Linked DNA regions of Homo sapiens: regions 1 and 2 are each linked to region 3. The links come from fine-mapping of genetic effects on gene expression. A gene starts in region 3. Each other region holds a variant in brackets. All regions are shown on one strand. Distances are between the middles of the regions.

Evidence for each region.
Region 1: its variant is fine-mapped to the expression of TSPAN33 in whole blood (TOPMed, PIP above 0.99). The same link has a PIP of 0.9 or more in macrophages, monocytes and monocytes after interferon gamma.
Region 2: its variant is fine-mapped to the expression of TSPAN33 in monocytes after LPS (Quach 2016, PIP 0.95).

What each region holds. Positions count from the first base shown.
Region 1 is chr7:129,118,108-129,126,249 of GRCh38, forward strand. No RefSeq gene overlaps it. Among named protein-coding and RNA genes, the nearest start is that of TSPAN33, 23 kb to the right of the region's middle. RefSeq lists enhancers at 4,128-4,297, 4,748-5,017. The variant G/T (reference allele first, on the strand shown) is at 4,636.
Region 2 is chr7:128,269,448-128,277,631 of GRCh38, forward strand. No RefSeq gene overlaps it. Among named protein-coding and RNA genes, the nearest start is that of LEP, 32 kb to the left of the region's middle. The variant T/G (reference allele first, on the strand shown) is at 4,842.
Region 3 is chr7:129,140,350-129,148,533 of GRCh38, forward strand. TSPAN33 (tetraspanin 33) reads left to right here and starts at 4,358. Exons shown (of 8, transcript NM_178562.5): 1 at 4,358-4,733. The coding sequence starts at 4,632. RefSeq lists a silencer at 4,271-4,480 and an enhancer at 7,343-7,392.

The DNA.
Region 1 (8,142 bases), 22 kb before region 3:
AGATGGGGTTTCGTCATGTTGGCCAGGCTGGTCTCGAACTCCTGACCTCAAGTGATCCGCCTGCCTCGGCCTCCCAAAGTCCTGGGATTACAGGCATGGGCCACTGTGCCTGGCCCGTTTTAGCTATTTGAAGCTATATATTGTTACATCCAGTCATCCTACAGTGGTATAGAACAGGGGTCCCCAGCCCCTGAGCCATGGTCGCATAACAACGGTCTATGGCCTGTTAGGAACCGGGCCACACAGCAGGAGGTAAGCAACAGGCTACTGAGTGAAGCTTTATCTGTATTTACAGCTGCTCCCCATTGCTCACATTACGGCCTGACCTCCGCCTCCTGTCAGATCAATGGCAGCATTAGATTCTCACAGGAGTGCGAACCCTATTGTGAACTGCACATGCCAGGCTCCTTATGAGAATCTAATGCCTGATGATCTGTCACTGTCTCCCATCACCCCCAGATGGGACTGTCTAGTTGCAGGAAAACAAACTTAGGGCTCCCACTGATTCCACATTATGGTGAGTTGTACGATTATTTCATTACATATTAATATTACGATGTAATAATAATAGCAATAAAGTGCATAATAAATGTAATGCGCTTGAATCATCCTGAAACCATCCCCCACTCCCTGGTCTGTGGAAAAATTGTCTTCCATGAAACCAGTCCCTGGTGCCAAAAATGTTGGGGACCACTGGTATAGAACTCTAGAACTTATTCCTTCTATCTAGCTGTAATTTTGTATCATTTAATAAACATCTCTCTAACTCCCACTTCCCTCTGCCCTTCAAGCCTCTAGTATCCTCTGTTTTACTTTTTACTTTTATGAAGTCAACTTTTCTTAGCTTCCACAAAGGAGTGAGAACATGCAGTATTTAACTTTCTGTTCCTGGCTTAATTCACTTAACATAATGTGCTCCAATTCTATCCGCATTACTTCAAATAACTGGATTTCATTCTTTTTTTAATAGCCGAATAGTGTTCTATTGTGTACGTATACCACATTCTCTTTATCCATTCATCTGTTATTGAACACCTAGGTTGAGTCCATATTTTGGCTATTGTGAATAGTGATGCAATAAACATAGGGGCACAGATGTCTCTTTGATATACTGATTTCTTTCCCTTTGAATAAATGCCCAGTAGTGGGATTGCTGTATCATATGGTAGTTCTATTTGTAGTTTTTTGAGGAACCTCCAACTCTTCTCCATAGTGGCTGTACTAGTTTACATTCCCACCAACAGTGAATAAGAGTTCCATTTTTCCACATCCTCACCAGCATTTGTTATTTTTTTGTGTTTCTGATAATAGCATCCTAACCAGAGTGAGATGATACTTCTTGATGGTTTTGATTTGTGTTTCCCTGATGATTAGTAATATTGAGCATTATTTTATATATTTGTTGACCATCCATTTGTATGTCTTCTTTTGAGAAATATCTGTTCAGATCATTTGCCCTTTTATTTATTTATTTTATTTATTTTTATTTTTTTTGAGACAGGCTTGCTCTGTCACCCAGGCTGGAGTACAGTGGCACGATCACAGCTCACTACAACCTCTGCCTCCCAGGTTGAAGCCATTCTCCTGCCTCAGCCTCCCGAGTAGCTGAGATTACACCCATGTGCCACCACCACACCCGGATAATTTTTTATATTTTTAGTAGAGAGGGGGTTTCACCATGTTGGCCAGGCTGGTCTCCAACTCCTGACCTCAAGTGATCCACCCTCCTGACCTCAAATGATCTGCCTGCCTTGGCCTCCCAAAGTGCTGGGATTACAGGTGTGAGCCACCATGCCTGGCCCATTTGCCCATTTTTTAAATTGAATTATTTGCTTTTTTGCTATTGAAGTGTTTGAATTCCTTGTATGTTCTAGATAATAATCCCTTGTTGGATGAATAGTTTACAAATATTTTCTCTCATTCTGTTGATTGTCTTTTCACTCTATTGATTATTTCCTTTGCTGTGTAGAAGCTTTTTAGTTTGATATAATCCCATTTGTTTATTGTTACTTTTGTTGCCTATGCTTTTGAAGTCTTATAAAATCTTTTCCCAGACCCATGTCCTGAAGCATTTCCCCATGTTTTCTTCTAGTAGTTTTATAGGGTTGGGTCTTACATTTAGGTCTTTGATCCACTTTGAGTTGATTTTTGTATAGGATGAAAGTCAGGAATCTAGTTTCATGCTTTTGCATATGAATATCCAGTTTTGCCTCAACCATTTATTGAAGAGACTATCAATAAGGGTTCTTGGCACCTTTGTCAAAAAACAGTTGGTTATAGATACATGGATTAATTTCTGGGTTCTCTATTGTTCCAGTGTTCTATGTGTTTGTTTTTATGCCAGCGCCATGCTGTTTTGCTTACTACAGCTTTGTAGGATATTTTAAAGTCTGGTAGTGTGATGCCTCCAGCTTTCTTTTTGCTCAAGATTGCTTTGACTATTTAGGGTCTTTTGTGGTTCCATATACATTTTAAGATTTTTTTTCTATTTCTATGAAGAATGTCGTTGGTATTTTGATAGGAATTGCATTAAATCTATAAATTTCTTTGTGTAGTAAGATTTTGTTCTGAATGCTAAAACTGTAGGTATAAATAGGATGGCACTGCTGGCCCAGAGGAAGGCCTGATTAGCCAGGGTGCCCCCTAATAGCTCTGACTTCACTAGTACCCAACCTTCTCTCAGTACTTTGAGGGATTAAGACAAAAATATCACATCATAAGTCTGATGCTGAAACAAGTTTGTTCCTTTAATGAGATAGTTTTTGACAAATTGGATCCAACATCTCCTGTTAAAATGGAAATACATATTTAGAGTCGTGGTAGGGCAGGTAGACAAGTAACAAGCCTGAGTGGCCATCACCACATTGGTATGAATTAATTTAGGAACAAAGAAAAACTTCCTGGGAGGATATGATCTATAATGGGATGGTTGGGGGGGGGGGTTGTTAGTGGTGGTGGTAATGGGTTATTTTAGTTTTGAATGTGTGTGTTGCAGGGAAGGAAAAAGGTTGGTGGAGAGTTCAGAGCCAAAGCCATGCTGAATGACAGGTGGAAGACAGTCTGATGGATCATAGTCACTGTTCTTAAAGAATACATAATTCAGGCTTGCATGAGACAAGATGAACCACTGACATCCTAATTTCTCAAAGTAGTCATTGGAAATGGAAAGAAGAGCCAGGATTTATTGGAGGGTATATTCACACAGAAGGGGTTCATGAAGGTGAGGGACCCTTTCACCTCCCCACTGGGCAGAAAGCACTTGCCAGAAGAAAGGGTTGCAAAAGAAGGTTGAACTCAGCAAGAAAAGTGCCTTGGGTCAGTCTCTGTACTGCTAAATAGGGCCTACCACCCTACCCTGCCAATCCCTACATAGGCCCTGTCTTCAGTAAACACTAGAGTTCGCTTACCTTCCATTCCAAGAACCAATCTGACATCTGCTGTATTAGTCTGTTTTCACACTGCTGATAAAGACATACCCGAGACTGGCTAATTTACAAAAGAAAGAGCTTTAATGGACTTACAGTTCCACATGGCTTGGGAAGCCTCACAATCATGGCGGAAGGCAAGGAGGAGCAAGTCACATCTTACATGGATGGCAGCAGGCACAGAGAGGGCTTGTGCAGGGAAACTCCTATTTTTAAAACCATCAGATCTCATGAGACTTATTCACTATCATGAGAACAGCATGGGAAAGACCTGCCCTCATGATTCAATTATCTCCCACCCAGTCCCTCCCACAACATGTGGGAATTCAAGATGAGATTTGGGTGGGAACACAGCCAAACCACATCATCTGCTGTGCCTCATCCCACAGATAGCAGAGCTTCCTCCTAATCTATCAAGAGTTCAGCATTTAGTGAGTGGTCAGGATCTCACCCTTCATTTAACCAACTAACCACCACCAACCAACCACCACCATCAGAGGTGGGCCTAAGGCAGGCCTTGGGGTCTCTGGGAAGTGGGCCATGCTCAGTCTACATCCCAATGTGCTATGGCTCCTGACACTCTGAGCAGGGGCTCTCCCTTGCACACACCAAAGGAATGACTGGGCTTAAAAAACGTGCCAACTTGCTTATAAATCAGTCTCCTCAGATTCTACAATTCACCGAGCCATAAAACCTCAGAGCTTCAAAGATGCTTAGAAAATATCAAGGCCAGGGTTCCCAGGAAGCCTCAATGCTGCCATTTTACAAAGGAAGAAACTGAAGTGCAGAGAGATTAAGGGGCTTGTCCAGGTCACACAGCTACTTAGTGGTAGATCTGTAACTAGAAAGGTTTCAGTTCACACTCAATGTTCTTTCCTCTAGAATCTAACCTCTGCCCCCTTGTTATTTTTGGCATGAGAGAGGAGGATTATATTTATGTCTCTAGAAAAGCTGTGCTTTTGGATTGAATTCTGATTTTCTCTTCTCAAGTCTCATTGAGAACCACATGAAAAAACTCTGCTGGATTTGAGTTAAAAAAAAAAAAAAAAGAATCTGAAGAAAAAAATAGCAAATCTGGTATCCTAATGAGATAATGAATGCACAAGTACTTTGAAAGAGGTACAGCACTTCAGTGCTTTTCAGATATGAGGTTTTGTCATGCTCTTGAAAGAAATGCATAGGCTTTACTGACATGGGGGCTGGGGCTGGG[G/T]CTGGGGCCCTGGCAGAAATGGGGAAGCACAGGCTGTGGCAAGGGGGGTTTCTCCAGAAGGCTGACTCATTTCTTGGCTGTCCCAAGCTTAGAGAGCCAGATTTCTTAGGGTTGTTTACCACCTTAGTAAGGAACTGGTGGAGGGTTTTTTTCTGGAGTTAAGCACTGCAGGAAGAGCTGCCCACAGTATGGGGGTGGGTCATCTGCTTCTGGACTGCCCAGGCCAACTGTGGTTACCCCAGTTAACTGTGGTGAACTGTCCACATAACCAGCCTTCTGGATCTGCCTTTCAAGGAGTCCCACTGTGCTTCTCCCTGCTGAGGCCGCTGAAAGGGCATAGGCAATTGCTAGAGGTGAAGAAAAACTCTGTAGCTAAGCTATAAAAACAGGCATCCTGAATCTGGCTACATCCTGGTAATCTTGCACATAGGATGAATCCTAAGAAAAGGTGAGTCTTGTTAATGTGCACAGCACACAAGCCAGCGGGATGGCGTGCCAGTCAGCAGATTTTCAGTTTCAAGATAACTGAAAATCCATTTTTATCTGACTTAGACAAAATGAAACAAAACACCAAACCAACAAACAACAACCACACAATTTCACTGATTCGCATAACTGAAAAGTCTAAGGTTAGGGCTTGTTTCAGGCACCACTGATCTTGTGGCTCAAACTATGTCACTGGGACTTGGTTTAACCCTGTCTCAGCTCTACCTTTCCTCAGTGTTACCTTCTCTCTCAGGAGCCCTGGGGTAGCCCCCAGTGGCTGCAGGTCATCTGTAATCCCAGGGGGTCCCAGCAAAAGAGAGAGGGAATCCCTTTCAGTAATGGTCCTCCTCCCCAACTAAATTAGAGGCTTCATTCTGACTGGACCAAGTTAGAGCGCATAACCATCCCTGGGCTCTGATTGGCCAGAACAGAGTCCGGCGTTCCACCTGCCAGGTGGAAGGGTAGATCTCTCCCATGCTCACTGAGCCTGAGACAGGAGGTGGGGTGGCATCCCAAAGGAAATCTAGCATGCTGGTACCAGAACGGGGAATAGGTGCTGGGCTTGGAAAAATAACAGACAAACACTCAGTGCTACCCATTTAAGCATTTGAAATAATTTCACTTCAAAATCAGAGTGGTCGAGTCTCAGACACATGAGATTCTGTCTCAGATTTCTGGTGGCTTGAATGGAGGGTGTACAGAATCATGTCTTGATAAATGTTTAACTTCTAAGATTTGAAGTGCAGATATTGGTCTGGGTATCCCTCCTAGAAATCTTTGCATTTTCTGCATTTTCTTTTTAATATTTTATTTTTATTTTTATTTTTATTTTTTTGAGACAGTGTCTCAGTCACCCAGGCTGGAGTGCAGTAGTGCGATCTTGGCTCACTGCAACCTCCGCCTCCCGGATTCAAGCGATTCTTGTGCTTCAGCATTCGGAGTAGCTGGGACTACAGGTGTGAGCCACCACGGCTGGCTAGTTTTTGTATTTTTAGTAGAGACAGGGTTTTGCCATGTTGCCCAGGCTGGTCTCGAACTCCTGGCCTCAAGTGATCCTCCTGCCTCAGTCTCCCAAAGTGCTGGGATTACAGGCGTGAGCCACTCACTGCACCTAGCCTATATTTGAATTTTAAATAGTGATTCCACACCTTAACCTAACCATAATGGGAATTGGATTAGAGAATGGTGGGAATTTCAGACAAGTTGGTGAGGGTGAGAAGTAAGGGAAGAGAAACGTTATGGAACCTCTCACATAAAAAGTGCACAGTGGCCTACCCCTATATGGATGTGAGACTGCTCCTGATAGGAAATATCCCCAAACCCCTTGTTTGCAGTCCACGGCCCCAGTCTCAACTCCACCAAATCATGATGCTTCCCCTGAGATCATGATTGCGTTGCCCAGTTTCCTCTCTGACCAGACCTGATTCTACAGACAAAAGCCAACCTCCTCACTTCGATTCCCCTGGATCCTTTCCTCCTCTTCACATCTACAGCCGCTCTTCTAACTTCTTACTCCCGTTGCAATTCCAGATATTCCAGAGACAGGATATCTCCAAGGCACTCCAGGGCCCCAAATAACAAACCTTATTTGTTTTCCACCTCACACAATCTGAACTCTTCTGCCTGCCCTTTGAAACCCTTCGCGAACACCTCCAACCTTATTTCTTGCTCCTCCTCAATACAGCCTGTTCTGGTTGGCACAGCCTCACCTCTTACCTTTGCCACGATGCTACTCCTGCTGCGTCACTCAGTTCTGCATGGTGAGTCTCCTCCATCCACTGTGATCTGGAACCACGTCATTGTCAGTGGAGGTTGAATACAACTGGAATTTTTTATGGGATTCTAACAGACCTGTCCCTGATAATGGCGTGCCCCTAATTTCCGTTCTTTACTGACTACTCATTGGCTGTATCACTCTAGTTGCACAAATGATCTCTATCTCCCTCTATGCATGCCTACTAGGTCCAGGGAAGTAATATAGTGTTTGTAACTAGGAGTGGTAAAGATGATGGCTAATTGGAGAGAGTAAGCTCAAGCTAAAAGCATTCAAATTCAATTTTTTTTTTTTTTTTGAGACAAGGTCTAGCTCTCTTGCCCAGGCTGGAGTACAGTGGCATGATCACAGCTCGCTGCAGCTTCAAACTCCTGGACTCAAATGATCCTCCCACCTCAGCCTCCGGAGTAGCTGGGACTGCAGGTGCTCACCACTATGCCCAGCTAATTTTTTTTAAAAAAAAAATTGTGGAGACAGAGGTCTTTCTATGTTGTTCAGGCTGGTCTTGAACTCCTGGGCTCAAGTGATTCTCCCATCTTGGCCTCCCAAAATGCTGGGATTACAGACATGAGCCACCGTGCCCAGCTCAAATTCAAAAATTTTAAGACATTATGGGACAAAGAAAATTCACCTGTCCATCCAAATAATGTAATGTGCAATAAATCTGCAACCACTGCTTAAGCTTGTCTTGAAGTTTTTCTGTTTTGCAGGACTCTTCCTGAGCAGTACATTTTCTTCTCTTCTAACAGAGTTAGAATTTATTGCTTACAACTCTTTCAGAAAATGGCAGTAATTAGAAATGGAGTCTGAGGAGGGGGATTTGCTCAAAATACGAGTATCGTTTCTTTACCATTTTTCTTTAGCAATGTATTCTGTAATCATAAATGAGCTACATGAAGATCTGAGCACAGCCTGGAAATATTGCATGTTTAATATCAGCCTCCTTTCCCTTCTTCAGAATTAAACTCTGGATCCTTCCTAGACTTGGCCAGTTCCAAGTCACGACTTCGTCAGATACACTCTTGCTGTAAGAAGCAGTAAAGTTCAGTGGTTATGATCACAGACCTAGAGCTGGTCTATCTGGGTTTAAAGCCAGACTCTATAGCTTTCTGGATGTGGCTGTCTGTTTAACCTTGGGCAAGCTAGGTGACCTCTGTTTGCCTCAGTTTCCTCATTTGTGAAGTGCGGATAATAATAGTACCTACCTCATGTCATCGTTTTAAGGATTAAATGAATTAACACATTTA
Region 2 (8,184 bases), 870 kb before region 3:
TTACTGTAGCACTGCTCACAATAGCCAAGATTTGGAAGCAACTAAGTGTCCACCAATAGATAAATGGGGCTGGGTACGGTGGCTCACAACCATAATCCTAGCACTTTGGGAGGCCAAGGGAGGTGGATGGCTTGAACCCAGGAGTTTGAGATCAGCCTGGGCAACATGGTGAAACCCTGTCTCTACAAAGAAATACAAAAATTAGATAGGTGTCATGGCATGTGCCTATAGTCCCAGCTCCTTGGGAGGCTGAGGTAGGAGGATCAATTGAGCCCAGGAGGTTGAGGCTGCAGTGAGCCATGATTGCTCCACTGTACTCCAGCCTAGGCAACATAGTGAGACCCTGTCTCAAAAAAAAAAAAATAGACGAATGGATAAAGAAAATGTAGTACATATATACAATGGAGTACAATTCAGTCATAAAAAAGATGAGATCCTGTAATTTGCGACAACGTGGATGGAGCTGGAGATCATTATGTTAACTGAAATAAGCCAGGCACAGAAAGACAAACTTCATATGTTCACGCTTATCTGTGGGTGGTAAAAATTAAAACAGTTGAACCCATAGAGATAGAGAATAGAAGGATGGTTACCAGAGACTGGAAAGGGTAGTGGGGGTGGGGGGAGGGGTGATGGTTAATAGGTACAAAAAAAATTGAAAGAATGAATGAGACCTAGTATTTGCTAGCATAAAAGGGAGACTATAGTAAAAATTAATTTAATTGTACATTTTAAAATAATTAATGCTTGAGGGAATGAATAGCTTATTTACCTTGATGTGATTAGTACACATTTGCATGCCTGTATCAAAATATCTCATGTAACCCATAAATATGTACCTCGACTGTGTACCCACAAAAATTAAAAATTAAAAAAAAATTAAGGCCAGGCACGGTGGCTCACGCCTGTAATCCTAGCACTTTGGAAGGCCGAGGCGGGTGGATCACTTGAGGTCAGGAGTTCGAGACCAGCCTGGCCAACATGGTGAAACCCCGTCTCTACCAAAACTATTTAAAAAATAGCTGGCTGTGGTGGCGTGTGCCTGTGATCCCAGCTACTCGAGAGGCTGAGGCAGAAGAATCGCCTGAACCCAGGAGGCAGAGGTTGCAGTGAGCTGAGATCGTGCCACTACACTCCAGCCTGAACGACAGACTCCGTCTCAAAAAAAAAAGAAAGAAAGAAAGAAAAAAAGAAAAAATTAAAAAAGAAGACAAGGGACCCTTGTGGGGTGTGGGGAGGGAGCATCTGTGACCCACATATTCTGTGGCCAAAGGGGCCAAGTATCTGAAAAGGCAGCCTCAGGACCATTTAAAATAGGCTTGATGGAACCAGGTACCCCCAGGGCCTGGACAGGGGAGGCCGTGGGTCTCCAATACGCGCTTGCCAGTCCTTTAAGCTGATTGAACCACGGTTTGTGCCCAGCGCCCGGTGGCTACCCAATAAACGTTGGCCCGTGCTCCTCTCGCCAAACTCAGCCACCACATGGGTCGGGGCCGCGGTGTCTCAAGCCCTTCGTAGGCTTCCACCGTCAGGCGGCGCTCGGCCTAGAGGCCCAGCCTAGTCCCCCACGCCTGGATGTGGAAAGCGCCCTCCACCTTCTCCGGGGACCCCTCTGCCTCACCGGGAAACCGCTAGGGGTGCTGGGCAGAGGCAGTGTGTTCCCGCTCTGCCTCGCGGCTCTTCACGCGGCTGAAAGGGGTGGGGGTTGCAAAAAGCAAGGTCCGGGGCAAGGACGCCGTCTTGGTCAAGGCTTTCCACGCCGGGCTGGGGAGAAGAGCGCAGCCACGTGGGAGAGTTAACAAGGGCCCCCCCACTGGGATGCCAGCCACCAGGAGTCTAATCCTGATGCTGTGTGGCCTGGGCACACGTTTTCCCCATTCTGGGCCTGTTTCCTCAGCTGAAAAATCGCATCCTAGACCCATTTGCTTAGGTCGATTCTGCATCAACAATTCCACGATTCGGTAGATAGGTGTATCCGGTAGGGTGACACCCAGTCAGACCCCCCAGCAGCCACAATCCTTTGCCTCTGAGCCAACATAACACGTTTGGAACACACGTTCTATTTGCGGTGCCAGCCGAGCTCTGAGGCCACAGCTGGGTCCAGCGGGAGACAGGAGAGCACAGGGTTAACAGCTGGGCCGGGAGGCCGGGAGGGCGACGCCTGGGTTCTAGTGCCAGCGCCCTGTGACCGTGGGCAAATTACTCAATCCCTCCCTGCGCGGGGCATGGTACCGTGCTGGCCCCGCGGGGCTGGTGGTGGGAGGGGAATGAAACGATGCGCGCCAGGTCCGCGCGCGGGCCCGGCGGAGTCCTCTCTCCCCACGCAGGAGGACTGCCTGGGCGGGCGTGGGAGGGCTGGGAACCCCGGTACCATCCCGGCTGTCCGCCCAGTGTCTCCCAGAAAAGGGGAGTCGGAATCTCTCTCACAAGGAGTCGAGTCGGAGGAGACTCGAGTCCTCTGGAAACCGCTGAGCTGCTCGGGTGCCTTTTCTTTTTGTCCTGGAAGGAATCTATCAGTACAGGAAATGTCTTCACGATCCCCGTCCCCGACTCTTCACAGAGCCCACCCTGTGCCCCTTTCTGACCCGGTCCGGGAGGGCTGGGGCCTCTCCCCAGGTGCCATCTCCGGCCTGGGGAGCCACAAACTGCCGCGGTCGGTGTCCGCAGGCGCAGAGCTGCGCCCTGACTCGCCCGGCTGGGTCTGGATGATCCCACCCGCTCAGCAAATTTCCCTTTTTTATTGTTGGTTTTGTCTGTTGGCTTTTACCCCCTTTCCTTTTCCTGCTTCCCCTGAGTCAGCAATGCTGAGCCCAGCGAAGCACAGGGGGCCAAAGGGAGAGACACACGGAGCGCCCCGGGGTCCCCCAGCCTCGGCGGCCCCCGAACCCCCCAGCCAGCCTAGAGCTGCCCTTCTGGGCCTCTTTTCTGCCAAGACCACTGAATGCCCATCCCCGAGGGCCCAGTCGAAGGGGATTGGAGAGGGTCAGGGTGGGAGGCGGGGCGATGGACAGCGGCGCCAGTGGTCCCGTGAGCGCTCCTGCTGCCCGCAGGTCCGGTACCCTCAGTTAACTGTACCTGGATGACTTCGGCCCCTTTAACAAGCACTTTCCATTTAACTCATTTCATCATCTCAATTCTGTGAGTGGGTCCTGTTATTATCCCACACTGTTATTGTCAGCCACCAAGTCAAGCAATAACAATAACATAACAATGAAAGCCCAGCAAACCAGTAATTTTTCATCTGAGCATTAAGATTTGAAGAGAATATTTGGAAGGTTCCTGCCCACAAAAATATCACCCTACACTCAGGTCTAAATATCTACCAGTGGTGATTTCTTCATTTGAATTAATTGCTGTTCTTTGCCAGGCTTGGGAAGACAAGTCTAGCTGTCTGGACTTTACATGCGTGTGCATGGGAGTGTGTGCTATGCAATAATACTTACACTAAAAATGCATCTGTTGTTTATCAGGGGCATATTTACACTAAAAAACGATCCGTGGATAATCTGAAATTCAGATTTAACTGGGTGTCCTGTCTTTTTATTTGCTAAATATGGCAATGTTAGCCCTGTTGGCCCTGCACTAGGTCTCATCCAACTTGGATCTAGATTGACCTAAGCAATGAAGTTGGATTCCTAGGACCTCACCTCCCTAGAAATTCCCTCTCCAGAACAACTACAGAGCACCTAGCTGTGGAGGAGCCCCAGGGGGCCCTCGTTTCTACCCCATTCTGCAGTGAAAAGAACTTGAGTCTAGAGACCTGTATTCTGCCCTGAGCTGAATACGCTCCCAGGGATCTCAGAAAATGCCAGATACGTGGAGCCTCCATTTCCTCATCTGTAACATAGGGATAATCACACCCAGCTCACGCTATTATAGTGAGAGTTAGACTAGAGAAGGCAAATGCCCGAAGAGTGAATTAGGGACAAAACTGCAGATCTTCAACATTTCTGCTCCCTCACCTGCACTGACTGATTCAGGCTCCAGTAGGGCAGCATTTACACCTTAGTAGAAACACCCCCCAGTGAGCATTTGATAGAGTCTTGAATGACAATGGTCAAGATCCAAATGGGCCACAGACTGAGCCTTCTGGAAATAAAGCCCCCAGCTTTGCTTTCTGATCCGCTGCTGACTCAGAGAGCAGATGCCTCTCCCTCTACGGGAGGTATTGGCGTTGACTGCATCCTGCAAACCTCCCGAGTCTTCTGCCTTGTGGGACTCAGGAAGTCCTCAGCCCAGACTCTAGGATCCCGTACTCTCCTCCTTGGGCCCCAGCATGTGTCTCTCTTGGAGCACACTTCCTCCTGGGACACCACCACGAGGCCCCAGCAGTGCCAGCATGGGTGGGAAAGACAGAAACTCTGCACTGTAAGGCCAGGCACGGTGGCTCACACCTGTTATCCCAGCACTTTGGGAGGCCGAGGTGGATGGATCACTTGAGGTCAGGAGTTCGAGACCAGCCTGGCCAACATGATGAAACCCCATCTCTACAAAAATACAAAAATTAGCCAGGTGTGGTGGCATGCACCTGTAATCCCAGCCACATGGGAGGCTGAGGCATGAAAATCGCTTGAACCCAGGAGGCGGAGGTTACAGTGAGCCGAGATCATACCACTGTACTCCAGCCTGGGTGATATAGTGAGACTGTGTCTCAAAAAAAAAAAAAAGAAAGAAAGAAACTCTGCAACTCTGCACTATAGTGAACCTCCCTGGTACTGCAGAAGCACAGGTGGAGTCAGGGTGCTCTTACTGAAAACCCCAAAGCTACAGCCTGTCTCCACTGACTCTTTCCTGAGACACATATTGGACACTTCCTTCTCCTCCAGCACTGGGGATGGGAA[T/G]ACAAGAACAAAAGCAGCCTGGGCGACCTTCAGGAGCTCAGAAGGCCTTTCAAGGGCTTCAGTCTCTTAAGCTTTGCCTCTCCTAAACAAAAACTCCACAGGGCTATGGGCTGGCAGCTTCCCACTCTCCACTGCCCCCCACTATTCCAGATTCTCTGAGATACAGGGTCTTGTCCAAAGCCCTTCCCTACATTCCCCTATGATCCCATCCTGATGTCAGAGAGGAAAAAGACAGGGAAAGGATGAGAGGCTACACAGTGAGGCTTCGAGGTGCCTGTGCTGGATTCCCAGTGGACTCTGCCCAAGCTCCAGCAGATCTTGGTTTACTTTTTTATGCAGCACATTAGTTGGCCTTTCATGTGCCAGGCCTGGGTGAGGCCCTAGGGTACAGGAGTGAACAGAACGTAGGGAGTTTACAGTCCAGTAGGAGAGCAGCTTAGATCAATAGCAACCGTAGAATGTGATGAGGGCTATTCTGGGAGAAGTGAGCCTGCTATGGCATAAAGCAGGGGTCCCAGCCAAGCCTGAGGGTCAGGGATCTGGGTCAGAAAAGTGCCCCCCAAAGAAGGGATAATCAGACCTGAGGGCTGAGCAGGAGTTCTCCAGGTAGAGGGATGGAGGGGGCTTGCTGGGGATAGACGAACAGTGTTTTTAAAGTTCCCAGGCAAGAGAGAGGCCCTGGAACCTTGAAAACAGTATGTTCAGTGGAAGAAGCCAGAAACAAAGGGCCACATGCTATGTGATTCCATCTGTAGACAGTGTTCAGGATGAGTAAATCCATAGAGACAGAAAGCGGGTTGGTATTTGCCAGGGTTGGGAGAGGGAATGGGCAATAACTGCTAATAGGCAGAAGTTCTTTTTGGGGTGATAAAAATGCTGTGGAATGAGACAGCAGTGACTGTTGCACAATCTTGTGAATATATCAAGACCCATTGAATTTTGTACTTTAAAATGGTGAATTGTATGGTATATGAATTATATCTCAATTTTTTAAAAAGAGAGGCCCTGAGTTCCACTGAGCAACTGAATGAAGCGCAGCTCCCTTGGCATGAAAGGGGGAGTTGGGCCAGGCCAGATCACACAAGGTCCACTTCAAATGGACTTTGTGCTGAGGGCTGGGGGAACCAGTAGAAGGCTCTAAGCTAAGAGGTGACATGGTCAGATTTGCACTTTAGGAAGGTCACTGTGGCTGAAGTGTGGAGAATGCACTGGGTGGGGGATAGATAGACCAGTTAGGAGGCTGCTGCCCCAGTCCAGATGAGGGATCCTGGTGACCAGAACCAGTGGTAGCAGGGAAGGAGAAAAGAAGGCTTCAAGGGAGAGGCAGGAGCAGAATGGACAGCTTTGGTGATTGCTGGGTGCAGGGGTAGGGTGAGAAGAGTGGCTGAGGCAAATGGGACTGGGGACCACTGATTGTGGGAGGAGTGGGGAAGAGGGGCTGAGCTCCATGGGCTTGGGCCAGGTAGAGTTTGAGGCACCTGCAAGAGCCCCAAGGGGACTTGAGGAGGAGGTGTTCTGCTCCGGGGGTGGCACTGAGGAGACAGCCTAGATAGGCAGGGAGATCTGGGGGCGAGGCACCAGCAGGCAGGATCACCCTGCCCTGGGAGAGTGTGGGGGAGAGAGGGCCGAGGGCCAGGAAGAGCCCTGGGGAATCCCAAAATGTGAGGAACAAGGAGAGAGGAAGCAGAAACCAGGAACCAATCAGAAGAGAGGGCTACATGGGGGCCCAGAGAGGCAATGTCTTGAGAATATGGCAGTGCCAGCTATGCAGAGCGTCAATGGAGATCACACAGGTGGGATTCGGGGACAGTTCAGTTGCTTGGAGAACCTGAGGAGGACAGCTTCAGCACTGTGGTTGGACTAAAAGGAGACCAAAGTATATTGAGGAGGGAGAGTGGGGGAGGAAGTGGAAACTGGTTCTTGGAACAAGTTACTGAATGGGAGATGTGATGAGGGAGTGGGAAGGAGAGCTTGAGGGGGAGGCAGGGCAGACCTGGAGCATGGGCCTGGGAAGCACATCTGTTTGAATTCTGAGAGCCTGGGCCTGGCCATCATGGTGGCTTATGCCTGTAATCCTAGCACTTTGGGAGGCCAAGGAGGGAGGATCACTTGAGGCCAGGAGTTTGAGACCAGCCTGGGCATACTGAGACCCTGTCTCTATCAAAAATTTAAAAAAGAAAAAAATTAGCCAGGTATGGTGGCAAACACCTGTGGTCCTAGCTACTCAAAAGGCTGAGGCAGGAGGATCGCTTGAGCTGGGGAAGTTGAGGCTTCAGTGAACTATGATCACCCCACTGCACTCCAGCCTGGGTGACAGAGCAAGATCCTGTCTCAAAATAATAAAAAAAATAAAAAGAAAATAAAAAGAATTCTGAGAGCCTGGAGAGCAGGAGGGATAAACATTGGGCTGAGGTGTCTAAGGAAGTGGGGGGGCAGGGGTTCAGAATTCAGAGCACCAGGTGCTCTGGCCTCAGAAGGGAGGAGGGTTGGGGTCTTTTCTTCCAGCAGGAGGGTGAAGGCAAGCACAGACCTGAGGTGGTGGGCGTGCAGGTTTGTAGACTTGGAGATGAGGAAAGGGAATTGTCATGTGGGTACTATTTTGCCACAGAAGCAGGACACAAAGTCAAATGCTGAGGTTGTGGGGAAAACTGGAGGGGCTGACCAAACTTATGTCAGAACCTGCTGAGAGAGCCGTGAACTGGTTGTTAAACATAGCTATTTTTAAAAATTAAATTATAATAGATCCACGCAAATAGGCCCAACTGATTTTGACAAAGGTACAAAGGCAATTCAAGAGAAGAAGGAGAGCTCTTTCTTTCTTTTTCTTTCTTTCTTTCTTTCTTTCCTTCCTTCTTTCCTTCCCTCCTTCTTTCTTTCTTTCTTTCTTTTTTTTTTTTTTTTTTTTTTTTCAGACGGAGTCTCTCTCTGATGCCCAGGCTAGAGTGCAGTGGCGAGATCTCAGCTCACTGCAACCTCCGCCTCCTGGGTTCAAGTGATTCTCCTGCCTCAGCCTCCCAAGTAGCTGGGATTATAGGTGTGCACCACCACACCCGGCTAAATTTTGTATTTTTAGTAGAGATGGGGGTTTCACCATGTTGGCCAGGCTGGTCTCAAACTCCTGACCTCAGGCGATCCACCCACCTCGGCCTCCCAAAGTACTGGGATTACAGGCATGAGCCACTGCGCCTGGCCCTGGGAGAGCTTTTTCAACAAATGTTGGAGCAACTGGACCTCATAAAAATTAAAAAACTTTTGCTCTGTGAAAAATCTAGTTGAGAAGATGAGAAAACAAGCTACAGACTGGGAGAAAATATATGCAAACTACATATCTGACAAAGGACAG
Region 3 (8,184 bases):
GTAGCTGGGATTACAGGCGTGCACCACCACGCCCAGCTAATTTTTGTATGTTTAATAGAGACAGGGTTTCACCATGTTGGTCAGGTTGATCTCGACTCCTGACCTCGTGATCCACCCACCTCAACCTCCCAAAGTGCTGGGATTACAGGTTTGAGCCACCACGCCTGGTCTACATGCTTTTTGAAGGAAATCACCAGCCTGGCCAACTGGGATCCCCACAGTCATCAGCCACACGAGCTGAGCCATCACTGCTGCTGACCCGTCTTGCCTGGAGTCTCCTGCCTTGCTCTACCCAGAACTCCCCTTTCCTAAAGCTCCTCGTCTACACCGTGTCACTGCTTCTCTCTTCACATACCTTCTTGCCAATGTTAGCTCCAGCAACATGACCCTCTTTCTTTACAGAGATACCATTCAAATATTTTAATTATTTTCATAATCATATGTAATAATATTAAATATATTTTTAAGCTAAAAATTGCTACATGTCCCGTCACAACAACACAGCTGATTTTACTTTTATATTTTTTCATCTCTGTTGAAATTGGCCCATATTTCTTACTGTGAATATGTTTATATTGTTAAAATCTTACATACTATTACATAAGTTTTTTGGGTTCCATTTTTTGTTTGTTTGTTTTCTTTTGTTTTTTTTGTGTGTGTTTTTGGAGACAGAATTTCTGTCACCCTGGCTGGAGTGCAGTGGTGCAATCTTGGCTCACTGCAACCTCCACCTCCTGGGTTCAAGCAGTTCTTGTGCTTCGGCCTCCCAAGTAGTTGAGATTACAGGTGCACACCACCACGCCCAGCGAAGTTTTGTATTTTTAGTAGGGATAGAGTTTTGCCATGTTGGCCAGGCTGGTCTCAAACTCCTGGCCTCAAGTCAGCTGCCCACCTTGGCCTCCCAAAGTGCTGGGATTACAGGCATGAGCCACCACTTCTGCTTTGAATTCCATTTTAAATGGCCACATTATATATTCCACATAACTGAAATACCTTTTCCATTGAATTCCATTTTAAATGGCCACATTATGTATTCCAAAGAACTGAATACCTTTTCCAAGGACTTGAAATAAGTTGAAACTATTCACTGATTGTCAGATACTCTGTATACTTTATTCTACAACCTGATTTTTGCACCTCATATGTCATGGACCTTTTTGCAAGTCAGTACATATGTTTTCTATGTTATTTTAAATGGCTGCGTAGCATTCTATAGTAAAGATACATTTTTCCAATTTTTAAATTCTTTTTGATTTTTCAATTTGTGTAATTTTTTCATTTTGAATCATTAATACACTTTATGCTGCAAAGAAAAAAAAACAAAAAAAAAACAAAGAATAAAATGGCACACAGTGAAAAGTCTCTCTCCTCTCTTTTCAGTTCTCATCACCATCCCAGTATGTAACCTCCTTTCTTAATGTCTTACGTTTCCTTCCAGAGTTTATTTAGGCAGAGGGAAGCAAATATAAATGTTATTCCTTATTTTTGTTTTCTCTCTTTCTCTTTAACCAGAATGTGATATATTGTATCCACTGTCCCACTTGTTGCTTTTTTTTTTTTTTTTTTTTTGAGACGGAGTCTTGCTCTGCCGCCCAGGCTGGAGTGCAGTGGTGCGATCTCGGCTCACTGCAACCTTCGCCTCCCAGGTTCATGCCATTCTCCTTCCTCAGCCTCCCGAGTAGCTGGGACTACAGGTGCCCGCCACCACACCCGGCTAATTTTTTTGTATTTTTAGTAGAGACAGGGTTTCACCGTGTTAGCCAGGATGGTCTTGATCTCCTGACCTCGTGATCTGGCTGCCTCGGCCTCCCAAAGTGCTGGGATTACAGGCATGAGCCACCCCGGCCTCATTTTGCTTTTTAAACGTAATGAGTTAACTTGGAGATCGTTCCAACTCAGTACAGAGAGAGTTTCCTAATTCTTTGTTCTATAGCTGCATGGCTTCCTACTTTGTGATGCCGTCCGTGACTTCCACATGAGGGACATTGTGGTCATCACTTTGAAGGCTAATCCCATCTCTACCTGTTAATTCCAAAACCTCATTCCAGCCATTATCCACCTTAATCCCTCTTGACTGTTTTGTTTTGTTTTGTTTTGTTTTGTTTCCTACGAACATGTTAGGTCTCTTATATGCTAACAGAGAACTTTCCCTTCACTCTGAAGTCCCTTAAGGCTCCCATAACCTTCAAAGCCAGACAGAGATGTCCACAGTTTCGTTCACAGCTTCCATTTCACCACCCATTCCTTCCTTGACACTGTGATATTCCTTCTTCTTCCCGTCTCAATTAAAAATGATCTCTTGGCTGGGCACAGTGGCTCATGCCTGTAATCCCAGCACTTTGGGAGGCCCATGCAGGTGGATCACCTAAGGTCAGGAGTTCAGACCATCCTGGCCAGCATGGTGAGACCCCATCTCTACTAAAAATACAAAAACTAGCCAGGCATGGTGGCGGGCGCCTGTAATCCCAGCTACTTGGGAGACTGAGGCAGGAGAATCGCTTGAACCAGGGAGGCGGAGGTTGCAGTGAGCTGAGATCAGGCCACTGCACTCCAGCCTGGGCGACAGAGTGAGACTCCGTTTCAAAAAAATAAAACTGATTTCTGGAAGATCATCTAATAGAAACATTCAGCATCTTGGTCTATTTCTCTATCCTCCCCGCACTAACATCTGAAAATGGCACCTACCTATTCACTCATTAACCTCTTGGAAAATGACTTCTGCCCACCCTACCTGCTTTATACTAAAACTGATCTCCAGTGTCACTTAACCTGTTAAGGGCCAGTAATCTCCCAGTAACCTGGCTGTGACTGCCTTCTTTAACCTCCACTCTTGGTGCTCCTGTTATGCCTGCTTGTCACCACAGCCTAGCCCTAGAGATTCTATCTTTCCAATGCCTTCCCTTCTATCCTCTCCTAACCATCTATTATTCTGTCTATTACTCCTAAATCAGTTCCTGATTTCTGATTATCTGGATGATGAGCAGCATGCTTCTAACAAATCTTTCTCTCTCCAGCCTCTTTCCCACTCCAACTGAAAACCATGGGTTTTCCATCATCCTTTTCTCCAAAACTCTTATTTCCAAGTCAATTAAGCACTAACTCCCCAATCTGATATTCAATTACTTCCGCAGTTTTAACACAATTCCACATGTAACGGCATCGGTCAGCATTATGTCCCACTGCTATTCCAAGCATACCCTGTGCTCCAGCCACAGCAGTCTGCTTATTTTGCACGAAACACATGGCGTGCTTTTGCACCTCCAGGCTTTGGTTCACCCCCTTTTTTTTTAATCCACCTGGATTATGTTTCCCCTCCGTCTCTACTATTCTAAATCCCATCCTCCCCTAATTTCACTTGCCACGCTATCTTCACTAACCTTCTACCAAACGTATTATAATTATTTGTGCGGTTATCATATTTCCACACTGGATTCTTAATTCTGCTAAAACGAAATACTGTAATGCCTTTGATGAGCCTTCCATGTGCCAGCCATGTGCTAAGTGAGCTACATGCATTATCTCATTTAATCCTCAAATCGCCATCTAGGTCAGGACTCTCCCATTTAACATTAAACAAACTGAGGCTCCGAGAGATTAAGTAGCTTGCAGCTTTCACGCAGCTAATTATGGTGGAATCAGATTCCCTCCCCGAGGTTCAACTTGTATTAGTTAGGGTAGCCAGCATAATATATTCGCCAGCTACGCTGCACTCAACCTGTGTGTGCCGGATCAGCATGTTAAAAACGGTGTCTGCAAGTAGACCAAGGGAAGAGGGGCTGCGGGGGCGGGAATTGAGACAGCAATGAATTAGGATGGCGGGATTGGCGGTGATGTTTCCAAATTTCCACTGTTGGGTTGTAGAGCTTCTGAAATAAGCATTTAAAATGTATAGTTACTAAACAAGATTGCATCTACCCTTGGTCTAATTGTTATGTGTAGGTTAGTTTTGTCTCCCTGATTTTATTGTCATCCCCCAGGGATTGTTTCTGTTCTCCCGCGTTCCCAGAGCTTTCGGCGCATTGCTCAACACACGGTGTGCGTACTTGTTGATTTTAATGTATGTGTGTTTGCATATGTGCACAGCAGCTGGGCGGAGGACGTGGGTGTGGGATGCACTGTGCATTCCTTCTCCTCACTCTTGTTCCTTTGAGCAGCTGCAGCCTGGATGCTTTCCCTTAGGGGTAGGGGAGAGGCAGAACCGCTGACCCTTTAACAAGTTATCCCTCACAGAACAGGTGTCTCCCCCGACTCTCGGTGGAGAGGGATGGCTGGATACTTAGTGACATCAGCCACGAGCCAATGGGAAGTCGGGCTCCAGCCGTCGCGCCAATGAGCGGCCGGGGGCGGGCCGGGTTTCCTGGGCGCCTGGCTGGCCGGGCTGGTCCTGCGGCCGCGGGTGAGTCTCGTCCGCTCGCGCTGCCCACCGCGGCTCCAGCAGCTCCAGGCGCGGTTCCCCGGCCCGCGCCGCTCCCGGCCCCCCGGCTCGGGCGCCTCCCGCCGCAGCGCAGGCTCCCCCGCCGGCCGGGCTCCTGCGCGGCGCGGCTCGGCTCATGCCCCCGGGCGCGGGGCACACAGGCCGGCCGGCAGCCGCTGGGAAATAGGCCCCCGGGGGCGGTGGCGGCGGCGGGGCCATGGCGCGGAGACCCCGGGCGCCGGCCGCCTCCGGGGAGGAGTTCTCCTTCGTCAGCCCGCTGGTGAAATACCTGCTCTTCTTCTTCAACATGCTCTTCTGGGTGAGTCTCGGGGTCGAGGGCACCTGGGCGGCGGGGTCCCCCCGCGGGGTGGAAGGGTGGCCCGGGGTGCCCCACGCGCGGGAGCCGCACTGCCGAGTTTTCTGGGCTGACGGCACTTTGGGGGAATTTATCCTGGGGAGGGACACCCCGGGGACGCCGCGTCTGCAGGGGGCGTTGTAGGGAGGAGGGTATGCCAGGGAATCAGTAAAGACTGATGGGTATTCTCGGGGCGTCGGAGGAGGGTCTGTGTTAGGCTAGAAATGTGGGTTTGAGGGAGCCTGTTGGCCCAAGGCGGACCCACTGACACATTCATGATGGGGGTCGGGGGTGGCGGCTGACTTTCAGGCCTGGGGGCCTGGAGGCCCGGCTGGCAAAGAAAGAAGAGGAAGGAAAAACCCAAACCTCTCTCTCCACCACCTCAGAGAGGATGGGTTACTGGCATCATCTCTTCCTTTTGCAGGCCTCATCTACCCCCACCTCCACCCCCCCAAAGTCTAGGAAGAATGGCCTCCAGGTGCAGATGTCTTTCCCATCCCAGCACTGCCCCAAACTTTGTCCCCTCCCTGCCACCCTTCTCAGGACCAGACTTCACCCCTGGAGCCTGGCAATCACCAGTGTCTTTAAACAGGACCCCGTGTTGGGCCGGAGGGCCAGGGGTCCTTTCAGAATCTTCTGCTTGGGGTGGAAAAAGTATTGGGCTGGGACTCCGGACACCTGGATTCCCATCCCACTCTGCCGTTCATTGTTGACTTGACCGACCTAAGCATGTATGTTCATGTCTGCAGGCCTTGACTCCCTCCCCCACAAATCCAACCCAGTGTGATCAGGGGTGGCAGAAAGACTGCTGAAGCTGAGAATTGAGCTGAACCAGATCATGCAATGCCAGCTCGACCCTGTTTCCTGGCTAGAGAGTCCTGGAGGTCCTGGGGTGTGAGAACATAGGGACATCCTTCCCCCATTCACCTCCTCTTCTGGCTCCTACCACACCAGAGCTGCTGCTTCTGGAGCCCACCATCCTTGCCCACTTCAGCTGGAGACCTAAAGTTCAGACTTGCAGGAGGGAAGAATTGAGTCTAAAATATGTTTCCTAGGGGAGGGAGCAGAACAGACATCTAAGCCATTTGCTGGAAAGGTTTCACAGGGCCCGTGGGGTGAGGTGCAGACACAAAGCCCATAAGTGCTGGCCTGTTGGGACAAATGAGAGAAATCCCATAGGGTGGTGATGACAGCGCACTCAGCCATCCTACTCCTGGGGAAAATGAAACTTGTGCTCCTATCAAATGCTCAGTTGTAAAACTGGAAAAAAATTTTAGAAGACATCTTGTCCAGCATCTGTGTTTATGTCTATAAAATGTAGAAAACTAAAGCACAGAGATGTTAAATGTTTTGTCCAAGGTCCAACAGCTGGTTAGCAGGCTTGGTCTGGTGACCTTTCTACTGAACCACAGTGCCGCTGGGGGAAGTCCTCAGCACAGATGGCTGCTGCTATAGCTGGGGTATGGGCAGTATTAGTAGTTAACCAGTCAACCCAAGTTCCCATAGTCTAGGTTCTGCTTCAGCTGGAGGTTAGGGAAAAACACAAGAAAATCCCTTACCACTCTACCAGTGCTGGGGGATGTACTAAGAGACTCCCCACTTAGGGGCAAGTATCAGTGAAGTCTCTGTGCTCACTGAGTGTGCCAGGCCAGTGACGTGACATCCTCGGAGCCAGCACTAGCATTTCAGGGACTTTAGGTCGTCACTCTGACTTCCTTTATCTGCCGAGACTGTCTCCCTTGGAGCCATTGGTACCTCACCCTTGTCTGTGCTCGCCAGTGACAACAGCTGGGTGCATCTGTTACACTTGTGTTCCTGGTCATTTTTTTTTTCTCGAGCTTCCCTACCCCCTACCTCCACCCTACCCCCCTTTTATCGGACAAACGACTTTGAGAGATCTCAGCCAGGAGAGAGTTTGGCTCCACAGACCCATTTACCTTGGTAAAAATGCTTCATTCAAGGTCAGAAGACGTGGGTGGCCAAGCTAGCACCACCCCAAATTAGAATAGAGCCCCTTCTTGGCCCTACAGTAGACTCATAAAAAATCAGAGGCTCTAGAAATAGCACACTGAAAGACAAGAGGCTCAGCATCTTTTTGGCACCAACTTACTGTGTGACCCTAAGCCAATGTATCTGTCTCTCTGACCTTAATCTTTCTCCTCTAAAGGAGAAACAATTTCTGCCTCAGTGAACTATTTAAGGATGAATGAATCATTTTGGGGACTGTTTTCTTTCTTCAAGACCTAGAGCTGGATCTAAGGATGAATCTCCCTGTGTCCTGATTGCCCTTCCTAGGGGACAGTACTTTTCAGGTGTTATTGAATGTCCCTTCTCCCCCAAACCCAGTGCTGCACAGGTATATTCATACAAGAGCAGCTGGAGAGAAAATGCTGCCTCCCCAGATCAGGGGGCCATCTTTCTTCCTAGCTCCTCTTCAGGGACTGGTTCCCATGCTTTCTTTTTTGTAGACTTCCACCATCCTAATCAAATTCTGCTCTTCTGCCCAGGAAGCACCTATGGATGAGATGATGGTCAGCCCACACCCTTTGCAGGCAGAGTGCATGCTCTGGCCGGCTTCTGGAGCTGCCGCATGGCAGTGGTTATTGTGTCTGTGCCTGGAACCCACTAGGAAGGTGTCCGGCATCCTCTGGGCTCTGAATAGTGGTGCTGGTGGTGATGGTGGCTACGTCTGCTGTTGCTCTAGAAGCCCTGACTCTTGGGGCATTTGGAGTCTGACTCAGAAAACTAATGAATTTTGGGGGACTGGGACCAGTTCCTACTGTTCATGTTTCAAATCTCACTTCCCCTTTGACCTGGGAGTTCTGATTTTCTTCCCAGAATCATGTTGCTGGGTTACTGACTGTGGGGATTCCATGGCCTGGAGTAGCTGCTCTAAGATCCTAGATGTTGCATTTAAATCAGTTAGGGTGGCTACAGAGCAGCTGCCTCTCCTCACCTCCCTCTGCAGGACAGCTCCGTGCAGATATTGGGGTGGTGCCTGCTTTCTCAGCTTGGCCATGTGTTGTCAGGAATATTCAGTGCCGCCCACCTCCTTCCTCGCTGGTCCTTTTCCCACTCAGGGCAGCAGTTGGCTGGCTTTTGAGTCAGGCAGAGCCCAGAAGCTCAGACCTCCAGCCCCTGTGTCTCAGCCCAGGCTTCCCTAGCAGCCATGCCTCAGGGCTCCCATGGCACCTTCTGTATTCTTCTATTGTCACATCCCTTACCTGTGCTGCAATTGTGTTTACTTCTCCGTCTCCCCCTCTAGACTTCGGGCTCTCGAGGGTGGGCACGGCCCTATTCACTTCTGGATCCCCAGTGCCCAGCTGTGTTTGGCATAAATTGGGTGCTTACTGAATGTTTATTGGATGGTGAGTGAGAGAGCAAACCCCACAGGGTAGAGGCTTGATGCCCATCC